Linked DNA regions of Homo sapiens: region 1 is linked to region 2. Evidence: fine-mapped expression QTL. Tissue or cell type: whole blood. Region 2 holds a variant in brackets; the other region holds the start of a gene. All regions are shown on one strand. Distances are from middle to middle.

Region 1 (8,168 bases), 29 kb after region 2:
AGGTGTGAGGAACACAAAACAGAATGGCTGCTTTTGAGAACAAGCACATTCCACAAATGTGATCCTTGGGATCACAGGAAACAAAGTGAGCAGAGTGGTGGGGAAAGAGGTTATTTACACTTCCACAAGCTGGATCTTTGGCTATTTCTACTAAGAGGAAAAAAGCTTTCTTAAACAACAAAATTCTTCCTGGAATATCCATGCAACATTAAAACCAAAGTTCCAAGTACGCAGATTCTTCTAGGCAGTATGTAAAATAGCATGTATGGCCAGGCACGGTGGCACTTTGGGAGGCTGAGACGGGTGGATCGTTTGAGGTCAGGAATTCAAGACCAGCCTGACCAACATGGTGAAACCCCACCTCTACTAAAAATACAAAAAAATTAACCAGGCGTGGTGGCGCATGCCTATGGTCCCAGCTACTTGGGAGGCTGAGGCAGGAGAATCGCTTGAACCTGGAAGCCAGAGGTTGCACTGAGCTGAGATCATGCCATTGCACTCCAGCCTGGGCAACAGAGTGAGACTCCATCTCAAAAAAAATAAAGAAATAAAATAAAAATAAACTTACTGCAGGAAATGACATCTGTTCATTGAATTTGTTCAGATCTTTCACATTATCTTAACAGGGACCACTGGATCTAGTTTTTCTTTGTTGGCTGTGCAGGTGAGATAAAAACGGAGTTTCCAGAAGATTTAACTCAAACTCAGCATGCACTCCAGGTTCTTCCATGCTAGTCTCTCTGCCTGCACTCTTTGCCCCAATCCAATCCCCATACAATGGCAAAGAAATATTTTCAAGCTAAAAATTGAATCATGTTACTCCTTTACTTTAAGAAGCCTTCAATGACAATAACGAAAGCTAACGTCTATCAAGCACTTAAGTACCCGTTGTCAGGAACTTTTCAATGCACTTCAGGTATATTAATTCACTCAGTCCTAACAATAACCTAATAAAGTAGATATTACTCAGGTTTTATACATAAGGAAAGAAAGGCAAGGAATGGTTAAGTAACTTGCAGACGGTCCTAGGGAAAGTGGGAGAAGCAGGGATTGGAAGCTTGGTGGTCTGCGTCTAGAGTCCCAGTGCTCACCTATGCTCCAGGGGCGTTGTGTGCTTCTATGCCTTTAAGGAAAGGTCCAAGATAATTACCAGCCTTTGCTGAACACTTGCCACATGGCACAAACTTTAAAACATACCTTCTGGCCCGGCGCAGTGTCTCATGCTTGTAATCCCAGGACTTTGGGAGGCCGAGCGGGTTCGGCCTGAGGTGAGGAGTTCGAGACCAGCCTGGCCAACATGGTAAAACCCCATCTCTACTAAAAATACAAAAATTAGACAGTCGTGGTGTCGGGCACCTGTAATCCCAGCTACTTGGGAGGCTGAGACAGGAGAATCACTTAAACCCAAGAGGCAGAGGTTGCAGTGTGCCAAGGCTGTGCCACTGCACTCCAGCCTGAGCAATACAGTGAGACTCCCTCTCAAAAAAACAAACAAAAAAAACCCTTCTCACATTTAATCCCGCTCAACCAGGAATCACCATTCCAAGTGAGGAAACTGCCTAGTTCAGAACTCCCCTGGCCAGGGAAACAGAACCCAACAGTGGCAAGTGCCAGGTGTATCCAGCTGCAAGGCCCCTGTTCCTGTGGATCCACACATAACCACCCCCCATTCCTGCAGCCCCACCTACTGCCCAACACAAAACTCTGCACACACTAAAACCAAAAACATAGAGATCAAATAGACTACAGTGCAGTCCACCTGCAGTCAGAAACTGGCGGAGTGACCTCAGAGAGAGAAGAACCTGGGGTGGATCATTCTGTCGTTTCCAAAGGAACCTACAAAACGTGGATGGACTTAGAAGTGGCCAGAGGAGCCAGCACCAGCTTCACATCAGTCACTAGATGGAGATCTGAGAGAGCTTTCACAGTCAGTAGTTGAGGAAACAAATACTAATGTGTGCCCGTTACGAACCACAAGCCAGGTAAGTGCTGGCTGCGAATTATGAGGTGGTGGTGGCAGTTGTAGTTGATACAAGTGTCCAGGATGGGGAAGGAGGTGAGGGATACATTTCAGACATCAAGAGAAAAACCTAACCACAGGCATACGGGTGGTATTAATAAACATCTGCGGAATGGCCGGGCCGGTGGCTCACGCCTGTAATCCCAGCACTTTAGGAGGCCGAGGCGGGAGGATCACCTGAGGTCAGGAGTTCGAAACCAGCCTGACCAACACAGTGAAACTTCCATCTCTACTAAAAATACAAAAATTAGCCGGGCGTGGTGGTGCACACCTGTAGTCCCTGCTACTTGGGAGGCTGAGGCAGGAGAATCGCTGGAACCGGGGAGGCGGAGGTTGCAGTGAGCCGAGATGGCACCACTGCACTCCAGCCTGGGCGACAGAGCAACACCCCGTCTCAAAAAAAACATAAAAATAAAAATAAACATCTGCTGAGAGAACAAATGTCTGAGAAAACAATATCTAACATATTTACATCCTGGCTATTTACAAAGACATTTAAACTTAATGTGTGTTGGGAAACTATTGGGCAAAGTTCTCACTTCTTCATACAGATGAACTCAGCTCACGAAGGCTTGAAATGACTAACAACATTTAAGGGTCTAGGGGAAGTTTGGGAGACATGACTGCAAATCACCTCCATGGCTCCTCAGCCAGCTCAAGCACTTTCTTCTCCCTAAGGAAATAACCAATCTCCTGCCCAACACACCAGTTTTTCAAGCCCATGTAGGAGGCCAACTCAGCCAGCAATTAAATCGCGCTCAGCCCGCCGCTCAGTTCTCCGTGGCCTCGGGCAAGTCACTCTACCACTTCCAGCCTCAAGTTCCCCATCAGTAAAAGGTGGGTAACATGAATAGCTAGCAGACAACAGGACTGTAAAAGATTAAATGAGGCATCGTGTATATGAAAGGGCTCAGAAAACTTAAAACGCCGCACAAAGAGAGGCGAGTGTTAACAGGGGCCGCGTGCAGGGGGATTTGGGCTTGCGCCTCAGCTTCGGCGGTCGGAGCAAGTCACTTCCCCGCTACTAAACTTCGGTTGTCTCAACTCTAAGATGGGTGGAGACCAGGCAGCGCCGAGATCACGGAGCGGGGCCCAAATGCCAGTCCACACAGGCAAGGAGGCTGCGCCGCCGAGACCCCAGGACCCCGGAACGCGGGGGCCCCAGGGGGCAGCCCCTCAGGTCCACGAGGCGGCACCCTGTCCCCGCCGCGGCCCCGTCGGCCTCCCAGGGCCGCCAGAGGGACTGCGCCTCGGCCAGTGGGCGGGCGGTCGGGGCCACGGCGGGGACGGCGGCAGCCGGCCAATGAGGAGCGCGGCTGTGGTCGGGGGCGGGCGCACCCGGTCCTCCGCGTCGCTCCCGGATCGCTACCTCCCCCGCCTCGAGCTCCACTAGGCCGAGGACCCTAAACCCCGAAGAAAGGAAAGGCCTCTCACCGTCCTTTCGCCGCCGCCCCGCGCTTCCTGATGAGTTCGTCCAGGGAGATGTCCGCCATCTTGCTCCGCCGAGCAAGCCGAAAGCAGTCGAGACCCCGCGAGCCCGCCCCTTCGGCCGCTAGGGAGCGACGAACTACTTCCGGCGTCCGCGGACCAACTCTCGCGACAGCCAGCTCAAAGCAGGCAAGAACCGGAAGGGGCGGGGACGTTCCCCGTGAGCCTTCGCGGTGCTGGCTGCTCATCTGCATACGGAAGTTCGGCACATTATGAATTATTTATTTTCCTCGAGGGAAAAAATTAAATGAAAAGCAACAAAATACATTATTAACAAGTGAGACAAACTTCAATGGAACTGGATCATGACCTCAACAGTCAACTACGATAGTCATCATACGCCTAATGAGAATAGAATTCATTACCTAGGAAATAAACTAAAAACGTCCTTATGCCTTAAACTTATGAGTAAGGAAAATAACGATTCGGGGTGACGCCCGAATCCTCACTGCTAATGTGAGACGAATTTTTGAGCGGGTAAAGGTCGCCCTCAAGGTGACCCGCCTACTTTGCGGGATGCCTGGGAGTTGCGATCTGCCCGACCTTATTCACGCCTAAAAAGTAGACTGACTGTGGGGTGGTCGTGTTTTTTGTTTCTTGTTGGTAGGTGGTGAATGCGTTTTTTTCGTTGTTTTCTCCGTTACTCAGGCTGCCAGTTGCTTGGCAGTCTTGTCGCTGGCTGTGGACGCTCTGCACTTCATCACCGTCCCCAGCTGCGCTTTGAGCCGGTCTAAGGTTGCCCACAGTATTGACGTTGGGACCCACGAAACTGGCAATTTCCATGTGTGCGGCCTTACCCAGTTCTCCCAAACTTCTGCGTATAACCGCTTCTCTGTGCTTCAGAAAGATAAGTCCGGCCCCGGCCTCACACAGCAGCTCAGTTCGTGACAGCGTTTAATATGTAAAATGGAGCAAATAATTTATAGGGCGTTGGGAGAGTTAAAGAGACTAATTCATTTACGTGTTAAATACAGGGAATGGCTTTTGCATTGATATAACCCCAGCCTCCAGCATGCGCCAGACCTGACGTAGGTGTTCGGCACATATTTTGTCCAATCACTCTAAAAATACACTCCATGCCCTTAGAACAGGTGGGGTTATGTCCTCTTGGCCATCAGGCATCAGGAGCTCCGTGCAGAAACTGGGTAAGAGGCCAGGAGCGGTGGCTCATGTCTGTAATCTCAGCACTTTGGGAGGCTGAGGCGGGTGGATCACCTGAAGTCAGGAGGTCGAGACCAGCCTGGCCAACACGGAGAAACCCCGTCTCTACTGAAAAAAAAAAAAAGAAAGAAAAAAATTAGCCGGGCGCGGTGGCACGGCCTGAAATCCCACCTACTCAGGAGCCTGAGGCAGAAGAATCGCTTGAACTCGGGAGGCGGAGGTTGCGGTGAGCCGAGATCGCGCCATTGCACTCCAGCCTAGGCGACAGAGCAAGACTCCGTTTCAAAAAAAAAAAAAAAAGAAAGAAAGAAAGAAACTGGGTAAGAGCGATCCTGCAATCCTCCTGCCTCAGCCTCCTGAGTAGCTGGGATTACAGGCCCGCCCCACCACGCCGGGCTCCTTCCCAGACCTCTTTTCCTCACCCATAGAACGGGACCATTAAGCCTTTCCTCCCTTCCAGGCGTGCCAGGAGGAACGCGCAAGAGGTGGGAGGAGGACAGGCTGGCCAGTGGGGTCAGCTGGGCAGTGTAGGGCAGATGCGGAGGACAATTTTATTTTTATTTTTGAGACGGTGTCTCGCTCTGTCGCCCAGGCTGGAGTGCAGTGGCACAATCTCAGCTCACCACAGCCTCCGCCTCCCGGGTTCAAGCGATTCTCCTGTCTCAGCCACCCGAGTAGCTGGGATTACAGGCGCACGCCACCACGCCCGGCTAATTTTTGTATTTTTAGTAGAGACGGGGGTTTCACAATGTTGGCCAGGCTGGTCTCGAACTCCTGACCTCAGGTGATCCACCTGCTTCGGCCTCCCAAAGTGCTGGGATTACAAGCATGAGACACAGCACCCGGCCTCCTTTCTTGTTCTTTTACAACTCATTTAGAGCTGTGTTGATTTTTAAAATTCTTCGTATAGGTAGGTGATACTGCCTGTGAATTCTGCAGCGTAAAGGGCCCGTTACAACTGTTATTTTAAAGGTGTTGGCCAGGCATGGTGGCTCACACCTGTGATCCCAGCACTTTGGGAGGCCGAGGAGGGTGGGTCACCTGAGGTCAGGAGTTTCAGACCAGTCTGACCAACATGGTGAAACCCCATCTCTACTAAAAATACAAACAAATTAGCCGGTGTGGTGGTGCACGCCTGTAATCCCCAGGTATTCCGGAGACTGAGGCAATAGAACCGCTTGAACCTGGGAGGCAGAGGCTGCAGGGAGCCAAGATCATGTCACTGCACTCCAGCCTGGGAGACAGAGCGAGACTCCGTCCCAAAAATAATAAATAAAGGTGTCGAGTCTGTATGGAGAATCGCTGCCTTAGAGCCCTCTCCCATTTTCTGAATGGGGAAACAGACCTGGAGAGGGTGGGAATCGGGTCCAATTGATCCCCTTTTCCCACGTCCCCTTTCCCAGGAGGCAGCCTCTTGTGGGCTCAGGCAGGCCTGTGTTCAAATCCTGTGCCTTTCAGCCTCAGACAGGGACAGAAATGAGGATGAAACCTAACGCGTGTCCATTGCTAGCAGTCCCCCGCCACAGTGTGAAGGCCATTTTGGGTCTGAGATTCCTTTTCCTGCCACTGTAGGTAGTGAGGTGGCCAGAGACAGAATGGAAAATGCGAAGTGAGAGGAGACAGGGCTCTCCTAGTCCCCTAGGTTGGTCTTGGGCCCTCCTTCCTGTGAACCTGCCCCGTCCCCTCTTCTTCCCCACTCCCCTCCAGCCACACTGGCCTCACTGTGCTCCTAGGGCCACCCAGCAAGTCTCCGGAGCACCAGCCTAGCCCCGCCTCCCTCTCCAGCCTCATCGTTGCTGCCCCTTCCAGCCACCTATCTTCTTCGATCTGTTTCTGAAAGTTTATTCCACAAGCTGGTTCCAACGGCAGGGCCTTTGCGTCTGCTGTTTCCACCATTTGAACACCCACCCACCCCAGCATGGCCAGCTCTCTCTTCCCGTCCCAGCCCAAATCCATCTCCTTGGGGCCTTCCTGCTGCCCCGTTTTAAGAACAGCCCCACACCCACCTTGCCTCATCACCTCTGTAATTTACCACCATGCAGATGGCATCCTCTGACTTTCCTGAGCCTCGAGGCTCATCTGACCCTGACAGGAGGCAGCAGCCTCGCGGTGCATTGGGGTGACTGGGGTTGCGTGGTTTCAGCTGGTTTGCCTCTGGGGGTTGGGAATTTTTCTTCCTGTGTATACTTCTCTGCACTTTCCAAATTTTCTACCACAAAGATACATCAGAAATAAATGCTGGAGCCGGGCGCAGTGGCTCACGCCTGTAATCCCAGCACTTTGGGAGGCCGAGGCGGGCGGATCACGAGGTCAGGAGATCGAGACCATCCCGGCTAAAACGGTGAAACCCCGTCTCTACTAAAAATACAAAAAATTAGCCGGGCGTAGTGGCGGGCGCCTGTAGTCCCAGCTACTTGGGAGGCTGAGGCAGGAGAATGGCGTGAACCCGGGAGGCGGAGCTTGCAGTGAGCCGAGATCCCGCCACTGCACTCCAGCCTGGGCGACAGAGCGAGACTCCGTCTCAAAAAAAAAAAAAAAAAAATACAAAAACTAGCTGGGTGTGGTGGTGGGCACTTTTAGTCCCAGCTACTCGGGAGGCTGAGGCAGGAGAATCGCTTGAACCCGAGAGGTGGAGGTTGTAGTGAGCTGAGATCATGCCACTCCAGCCTGGGTGACAAAGGGAGACTCCGTCTCAAAAAAAAAAAAAAAAGAAAAAAAAAATGCTAGGTCTTCCCCAGCCCTTTCCTGACCCCACCCCTTGTGTTGCAGGTCACAGACCCTCGAGGAGCTAGAGAAGGGTTAATATTAGCAAAGTTTTACTTTTTTTTTTTCTGCTCATAAATGACTCTGAAAAAGCCAATACGCAAGAGGCTAACACAACTGTAGTCTAAAGGCAACGTCGAGGTCACTGATATGTCCCTCAGACAAGAGGCACTGCTCAGAATCCCCCTGTGCTGGGGGTGAGGGAAGGAGGGGACGGTTTAGGACAGAGGAATAAATACATGTGGTTGTGGGAGTTCTGCCATCAGGGATGGTGGCCCCAGCCCAGGACCCCAAAACCCTGAGGCGGTGCAGTGGGCTGCCAACCCCCCAGCTCGGGGTTCCCCAAGGCTGCCTCAGTGTTTGGATGGGCTGGAAGGAAATGCTGAGGTTCTGGGAGGGCCCCATGGCCAGCCCCCTCTTCCCACTCTAGCCAGAGGAGAGCCAAGCTCCCGGCTGGCCAGGGCCCTGGGGTAGGGAGCAGTGCCCCCAAGAGGGCTTTCTGGTGTCAATGTCTCATGCAGCGTCAGGTGGTGAGGCCTGGGCCTGGCCCTGAGGCGGGAGTGGGGGTGACAGGCGAGGCTGGGGTGGGCCCTGGCACCTGCAGCTTTGGGCTGCCCATGTGTGTCTGCTGACATCCCGACTATGGTCCACGGCCGGGAATGGTGGGCAGACGGGGCTGCTGGCAGCCCTCAGCCTTATAGTGTGTGTGGGGGGTGGACGAGGGGTCATGAGGACA
Region 2 (8,179 bases):
CCGGGAGCGCGGGGGTCGCCGGGAGTTGCGGTTCGGCGCCGGCGCGAGCGCGTTTTTGTGGCGCCTGCCCCGCCCCCTCGCTCCAAGCCCGCCTCCCCGGCCCCGCCCGCCATGGCTCAACCTTCATCCGCTCAGAGGCAAATCAGCGCGCCAAAGTGGGAGTGAATGTCAGAGTCGACCCCGGCCAGTCACGAGTGCGAACTCAGCTTTCCACTCATGCATTCACACGTTGAATAGGCAGTGTGAGAGAAATCCAGGATGGCTGCTAGCTTTTCAGTCTGAGCAACTAAGAGGATGGTGTTGCCATTGACTGACATGGGTAGACTGCAGGAGAGGGGCCAGCTTAGGGAAAATCGAGTAGATCAGTTCTCTGTGGGCCGTGGTGAGATGCCCATTAGGCCACTCAGGGGAGATGTCAGGTGGGCAATCAGATATGAGACTCAATAGTCAACTATTTTTTTTTTTCTGCCGTCTCACTGTGTTGCCCAGGATGGAGTATAGTGGCATGATCACAGCTCACTGCGACCTCTGCCTCCTGGGCACAAATGATCCTCCATTTCAGGCTCCTGAGTAGCTGAGCTAATTTTTCGTTTTTTGTAAAGATAGGGCTTCACTATATTGCCCAAGCTGGTCTCGAACTCCTGAGCTCCAGTAATCTTCCTGCCTCAGCATCCCAAAGTGCTGGGACAAGAGGCATGAGCCACCATGCCAAACCGACAGTCAACTATTTTTTTTCTTTTGAGACAGAGCCTCGCTCTGTTGCACAGGCTGGAGTGCAGTGGCGTGATTTCACCTCACTGCAAACTCCGCCTCCCGGGTTCAAGTGATTCTCCTGCCTCAGCCTCCTGAATAGCTGGGATTACAAGCGCCCACCACCGCGCCCCTCTAATTTTTGTAATTTTTAGTAGAGACAGGGTTTTACCACGTTGGTTAGGCTGGTCTCAAACTCCTGATTTCATGCGATCTGCCTGCCTCGGCCTTCTGAAGTGCTGGGATTACAGGCGTGAGCCACCATGCTGGCCCCAATAGGCAACTTCAAATGTGGTGTCAAGGCTCCCAGAGAATGTTCCAGGCACAGGAAATGGAGAAGTGACCATCTTTAAAAGCCTAGGCACAGAAATGGCAGAGTCACATCTGGTCAAAGTAGTAACAGAGCACACTTGGGTTCAGGAGGGGCACAGGACCCCACCTTCTGGAGAGGAGTATCAAGTAATTTGCATCCCTGGTGGGGAGCAGTGGCTCATGCCTGTAACTCCAACACTTTGAGAGGCTGAAGCAGGAGGATCACTTGTGCCCAGGAGTTCAAGACCATCCTGGGTATCATAGCAAGAATCTGTCTCTATTTTTTAAATAATTAAGTTCCACCCCAAATGTTGAAATCCCTGCAAGATTAAAACCCTTGGCTGGGCGTGGTGGCTCACGCCTGTTAATTCCAACTTTGGGAGGCCGAGGCAGGCAGACCACCTGAGGTCAGGATTTCAAGACCAGCTTGTGCAACATGGTGAAACCTCATCTCTACAAAAATTAGCCAGACATGGTGATGCACGCCTGCAGTCCCAGCTAATTGGGAGGCTGAGGTGGGAGGATTACTTGAGTCTGGCTGCGGAGGTTGCAGTGAGCTGAGATAGTGCCACTGCACTCCAGCCTTGGCAACAGAGTGAGACTTTGTCTCAAAAAAAAAAAAAAAAAAAAAAAAAAGATAACTCAAAGGTAGGAATAACAAATGTTTATTCAGAAATGGATAAGTAATACATAATCACCCTTCATCTCTTAATGCCCCTTCCTCTCCTTCTGCACAGGAGACACAGATGGGTAACATAGAGGCATGGGAAGTGGAGGAGGACACAGGACTAGCCCACCACCTTCTCCTCCCGGTCTCCCAAGATGACTGCTTATAGAGTGGAGGAGGCAAACAGGTCCCCTCAATGTACCAGATGGTCACCTATAGCACCAGCTCCAGATGGCCACGTGGCTGCAGCTGGACTCAATGAAACTCTGTGACAACCAGAAGATACCTGCTTTGGGATGAGAGGGAGGATAAAGCCATGCAGGGAGGATATTTACCATCCCTACCCTAAGCACAGTGCAAGCAGTGAGCCCCCGGCTCCCAGTACCTGAAAAACCAGGTCCTACTGCCTTCTGGATGCTCTCTTGGGCCAGGAAGGGAAAAGTGTGGGAGGAATGTCTTCCAGCTGCTAACGAGAAGTCTGCACCCACTTGAAAGGGTTAGGAGAATAAAAAGCAGCATTCTTTAAAGAACTGCAAGTGGAGCACCACCAGGCCCCTTCCTTGGACTTTCCCGTCCTGGGCAGCCTCAGAGCCTGCACACTGAAGCTGGGTTCAAATCCTGGGTCCTTCCTGCCTGACAGACTGACCCCTGGAAACATGAGTCTCTGGTTTTTTTCACTGGGCTAGCCTCAAGCAAATCTTGGGAGCTCTTGAGTATCTTCGGCATGTGCCTTTTCCAGCACTTGCTACTGATTTTGCAGAGCTCCCAGAACCGTGCTCCCCAACTGGCTCCAGCTCTGCCAGCCTGGATTCTCTTCACTCCCAACCAGCAGGGGACCACTCAGTGACAACACTGGCCTGGTCATTCAGGGACTGCCTGGGCTCTGAAGTTTCGTCCCAACTGTCTGCGCCTATGCTGGGGAAACACCTTGCCTGGTAGAGCTGCCCTGCTCCCTTGACTCCTCCTCCTCTGCCAAGGCAGGAAAATAATCCTCTGGTCATGGATGGATGGGGTCACTCACATAAGTGGGAACAAACAGTGCCCCTTGGTGGCAGCTGGATATATGCCTCCAGGCATCCCTGACCACTGTCCTGTAGACAACTGAGGCCAGAAATGGAGAGCCAGGAACAAACTGACCTCTTCCATTCAAATAAGCTCCAAACCCAAGCACTGCACAATGGGAGGCTGAGCCTTTCAAAGGCCCAACCAGAAGAGAGCTGGCGGCTACACAAAACCAGGGTGTGGTTAAGTGCCAGGCGAGGTGAGAACCGGGAGGGCTCACAACACAGCCCCCTCCCAGCAAAGACACCCAGAAGGGAAAGAGAGCTGGGGTGGGGCATTCAGCACAACTCAAGGAAAAGGGAAAGGTGAACTCTGGAGAACTTCCTCTGGGTGGAGACGACACGGGACTCCAAGCCAAGAGCTTAGATAGACTCTTCCCAGCGGTGCAGCCTCATCCTGCCCTTGCCACTAGTGAGGCCTGGAGCCACTGGGGAGAGGACAAGAGGCCTGAGACCTGCTCCCCACCCAGGCACCTCCACTGACAAGACAGAGGAGCGGCACAGCTCTCAGGCCGACCTGGCTCCCGTCAGGACACCAGGGCTCTCCATCCCCTCCATTGTTTGAAAAGCTTAATACACACAAAGGAAAGGCAGCCCCTCGGCCCCTGGAAAAAGCAGGGTCCTTCAGACAGCCCCCACGCTGCATCCCATGGGGCCACAAGAAAGCCACCCAGAGAATTCAGTGTACCATTTCCAGATAAGAAATCAGCTTGGGGCTGAGGCTCGGGGAGGCACACACTGAAAAACACAAGCCTACCTTGGCGATGAGATGAAGAAACATACTACAGGAAACGTTAACGTAGAGAGAAGAGCACAGGGCAGAACACAACACAGAAAGGCGGGTCCCATCCAGTGAGGAAGCTCTTTATCCCTGGCAACCCTTCCCACAATCAGGGGTCTCCAGTCCGATGGCCCATTGGTCATAAGCTTTGCCTTGGGGAAACAGAGCCACCCTCCTCTGCCCCCACTTCTGGCTGCCTCACTCCCCTGCTCAAAGCTTGATTTTGAATTCTGTGGGCTGCGTGGTCACAGAGGCCCCTGAGGACTTGAAGAGTGCCTTCAGGATGGTGTCAGGGTCCACTTCGGCAGGGGGGTTGGAGGAGGAGGCAGAGTTCACCCTGCGAGGCAGCTCGCTCTCCTTTTTCATTGATGGGCTGTCACTCAGCCGCCTGTGGAGAGCAGAGAAGAGTCAAAAATTCTTGTCAGTTTTTCCTTAGATGGGGAGGGGACCCACCATTTACTGGGCATCTGTCATGAGCTAGGCACTGGGTGTAACACTTTCCATACCCCTTCATCTCATTCCACCTCGCAGCAAACTCAATCACAGCTCACATCAGCCTCCATCTCCTAGGCTCAAGCAGTTCTCCTGCCACAGCCTCCTAAGGAGCTAGGACTACAGGCGTGTACCACCATGCCTGGCTCATTTTTAAAATTTTTTGTAGAGACCAGGTCTTGCTATGTGGCCCAGGCTGTGTTTTTCTTATTTACTGATGAGAAAATGGAGACGCAGGCAGTGCTGTATGTTCTAGGGTTTTGTGGGGTTTTTTTGAGACAGAATCTCACTCTGTCACCCAGGCTGAAGTGCAGTGGCATGATGATGGCTCACTAGTCTCGATCTTCCAGGCTCAAGCGATCCTCCCACCTCGGCCCCCCAAGTAACTGGGACTATAGGTGCATGCCACCACACCTGGCTAATTGTGGTTTTAAGTTTAGGAAACACTGCATGTTCCTTCTGGATGGTAACATCCATTAGCATATTACACAAT[C/G]TGAGAAGCCCGAAAGTGAAACAGATGTAACTCTGTTTAGCCCAGTAGTTCCCAAACTTATTAGGTTACAAAACCCTAAGAAATATTTCTTATTCCTTGAACACAGTTTAAGAACTTATCCAAATCACATAATTCATTACCCAGGGTTCAAATCCTAGTCTTTTTAAATCTCAAAGTCTATTTCAGCCCTGCCCCACACTATCCCACTCACCCTGGCAAGTCTAACCTCCTCCCTGGTATCTGCTTCCTTATCTAGAAGGTGAAGTCCTCACAGTCTCAACATTTTATGCATCTCAGGCTTCAAAACATCCCTCAGTCCTGGGCCAGGCATGTATACTCAGCTGTGTGCAACAAAAGCCTTCAATGGCTTCCCACTGTACTTAAAAGCCAAATCCAGCTGGGCGTGATGGTGTGCGCCTATAGTCCCAGGTCCTCAGGAGGCTGAGGGGAGAGGGTTGCTTGACCCCAGGAGTTTGAAACCAACCTGGGCAACACAGTGAGACTCTCAAAATAACTGAAAAAGCAAAAAACAAACAAACAAACAAACAAACAAAAAACCTCACTGGGGAACAAAATAAGGGGTAGCATCTGGCACTGTCTCCATCAGAGCCAATCATGCAGTGGAGTTCTCTGTTCCCGGGATGATGCACACAGCTAGGAGACCCAAGCAGCCTCCCCCTCCAACTTCCACTCAGATATTTCTAAATCAGAAAGCTGAGAACGAGATCATAATGCTAGTCCCTATAGGGTCAAGCCCTGGGGAAATAACAAAGCAAACCATTTTGGTCAAGTTTAAGCATATGAAACGGCCAGCTGCCATTAGAACAGAGGAAACGGAATGGGGGGATGAAGGGGAGCTGTGATGCAGGCAGTTTACCCATTAGAACAAAAAGAGATGGACGGAGCTGCCTCTCCCCAGCACCCCGCCTTTGGAACTCACAGCAGGATGGGCTGGTCTGAGGTGATAACATTCCCATTCATGTGAAGGTTGCACTTCATCGGCTGCCCTGAAAAACCAAAGAAAGAAAAAGGCTCTGCTATGAGACCTCGGCTCCTCACACAAGAGGACAAGGGCTGTACCTCCATTATCAATGGTCAAAGCACCCACCACTGGCAGTTCTGGCTCCACAGATGGAGATGGGGCTGCTAGGTTCCAGTCAAGCCAGACACTAAGAAAATCCCAGGGCGTGAGGAAACCTCAGCAGTGGAGCACCAAGAGGCAAAGTGGCCACAAACCTTGCTTCATACAGGAAGAGATGAGTGGGAAGTGAGGGAGAAACGAGACTCAATGTGAAGCCATCCAAGTAGTAAGGGAAAAGGTTTATGCTATCAAATTCAGTGAAAAGATGATCAAAAGCATTATGTACAGGCTTCTACTCTGTCTACAAAGGATGAAGCACTAGGAAGACCACACTCCCACTGTATACAAAGCATAACATGTGTAACGGTAATAGCACAAAAAAGAGGAAGAAGGAACAGGGCCATGTGGGAGTAACATTTCCATATCTTACTCGAGTTAAGTTAGTGAATACATCATTAAAGGAATTAAAATATTGGGGAAAAAATGTGAAAGAAAAGCCACTGAAGAGGAACAAAAAAGTAAAATGGGGCCGGGCGCGGTGGCTCACGCCTGTAATCCCAGCACTTTGAGAGGCTGAGGCGGGTGGATCACGAAGTCAGGAGATCGAGACCATCCTGGCTAACATGGTGAAACCCCGTCCCTGCTAAAAATACAAAAAATTAGCTGGGTGTGGTGGCGGGCGCCTGTAGTCCCAGCTACTCAGGAGGCTGAAGCAGGAGAATGGCGTGAACCTGGGAGGTAGAGCTTGCAGTGAGCAGAGACCACATGCCACTGCACTCCAGCCTGGGCAACAGAGCGAGACTCCACCTCAAAAAAAAAAAAAAAAAAGTAAAATGGAAGAAATAAACCTAATTATCAATATTAAATATGAATGGATTAAATAATCCAATCCAAAGACAGATTGTCAGATTGAATTCAAATAAAAAAAAAACCAGTAAGATCTAACTATACACTCTCTATAGGTGACACATTTTTCTTTCTTTCTTTTTTTTTTTTTTTGAGATGGAGTTTCGCTCTTATTGCCCAGGCTGGAGGGCAATGGTGCGATCTCGGCTCACGGCAACCTCCGCCTCCTGGGTTCAAGCGATTATCCTGCCTCAGCCTCCGGAGTAACTGGGATTACAGGCATGTACCACCACACCTGGCTAATTTTGTATTTTTAGTAGAGATGGGGTTTCCTCATATTGGTCAAGCTGGTCTCGAACTCCCAATCAGGTGATCCGCCTGGCGGATTACAGGAGTGAGCCATTGTGCCCAGCCTAGGAAACACATTTTTACAGTTGATGAGAGAAAAAGATTGAAAGTAAGAGTGGGCCAGGCTTGGTGGCTCATGCCTGTAATCCCAGCACTTTGCAAGGCTGAGATGGGCAGATCACTTGAAGCCAGGAGTTTGACAGCAGCCTGGCCAACATGGCAGAAACCCCATTTCTACTAAAAATACTAAAAATTAGCTGAGTGTGGTGGTGCACACCTGTAGTCTCAGCCACTCAGGAGGCTGAGGCACAAAAATCGCTTGAACCTGGGAGGAAGACGTTGCAGTGAGCCAAGATCATGCCACTGCATTCCAGCCTGGGCGACAGAGCGAGACTCCGTCTCAAAAAAAAAAAAAAAAAGTGAACAAAGATATATCACTCAAATAGCAACCCTAAGAAAGCTGGTCTTTTACTTATTAGCTTATTAGCTATTAGTAATATAAAATGAAATATACTTTAAAACAACAAAAAAAGTGACTAGAGGTAAAGAGAGATTTAAATTTGACTGAAGGGTCAATTCATCAGGAAGAAAACAATCAAACATATATGCAAGTAACAACAGAACCTCAAATATATAAAATAAAAATACACAGAAGTGAAAGGAACAGACCAACAGTAATAAAGATCTCGCCGGGTGCAGTGGCTCACACCTCTAATCCCAGCACTTTGGGAAGCCCAGGTGGACGGATCACTTGAGGTCAGGACTTCAAAACCAGCCTGGCCAACATGAGGTCAGGAAATCAAGACCATCCTGGCTGACACAGTGAAACCCCATCTCTACGAAAAATACAAATATTAGCTGGGCGTGACAGTGGGCACCTGTAATCCCAGCTACTTGGGAGGCTGAGGCAGGAGAATTGCTTGAACCCGGGAGGCAGAGGTTGCAGTGAGCTGAGATCATGCCACTGCACTCCAGCCTGGGTGACAGAGGGAGACTCCGTATCAAAAAAAAAAAACAGAACCTCAGTATTTCACTTTCAATACTAGATAGAACCAAGCAGATCAACAATGAAACGCACTTAAACATTACAAAGCAACAAGACATAATAGACATGTACAGAACATTCCACCTAACAACAAGAAAATACATATTTTCCTTAAACACTCATAGAAGAAAAGAAAATCTGGAAAATTCATGAATATATGGAAATTGAAACAATCCTAAATAACCAATGGGTCAAAGGAGAAATCACAAGGGAGATTAGAAAATAATTCAAGATGAATGAAAATGAAGGCATGATATACCAAAACACGGAATGCAGTTACAGCCATGCTTAGAATATATAGCT

Evidence for each region. PIP is the estimated chance that this variant, and not a neighbour inherited with it, causes the effect.
Region 1: POLDIP3 starts here. The variant in region 2 is fine-mapped to the expression of POLDIP3 in whole blood (TOPMed, PIP 0.95).

The regions. Positions count from the first base shown.
Region 1 is chr22:42,611,345-42,619,512 of GRCh38, forward strand. It overlaps POLDIP3 (DNA polymerase delta interacting protein 3), which reads right to left and starts at 3,539. Exons shown (of 9, transcript NM_032311.5): 1 at 3,455-3,539. The coding sequence starts at 3,513. It overlaps CYB5R3 (cytochrome b5 reductase 3), which reads right to left. Exons shown (of 9, transcript NM_000398.7): 9 at 6,496-8,168. RNU12 (RNA, U12 small nuclear) reads left to right here and starts at 3,900; the gene lies at 3,900-4,049. LOC124905127 (a long non-coding RNA gene) reads right to left here and starts at 3,435. Exons shown (of 2, transcript XR_007068118.1): 1 at 569-3,435. RefSeq lists enhancers at 1,759-2,302, 2,847-3,390, 3,391-3,934, 3,427-3,606, 3,687-3,746 and 1 more and silencers at 3,027-3,356, 3,897-3,956.
Region 2 is chr22:42,582,010-42,590,188 of GRCh38, forward strand. POLDIP3 (DNA polymerase delta interacting protein 3) reads right to left here. Exons shown (of 9, transcript NM_032311.5): 8 at 5,497-5,563; 9 at 1,712-3,959. The coding sequence ends at 3,782. It also overlaps the pseudogene RRP7BP. Among named protein-coding and RNA genes, the nearest start is that of POLDIP3, 29 kb to the right of the region's middle. The variant C/G (reference allele first, on the strand shown) is at 4,557.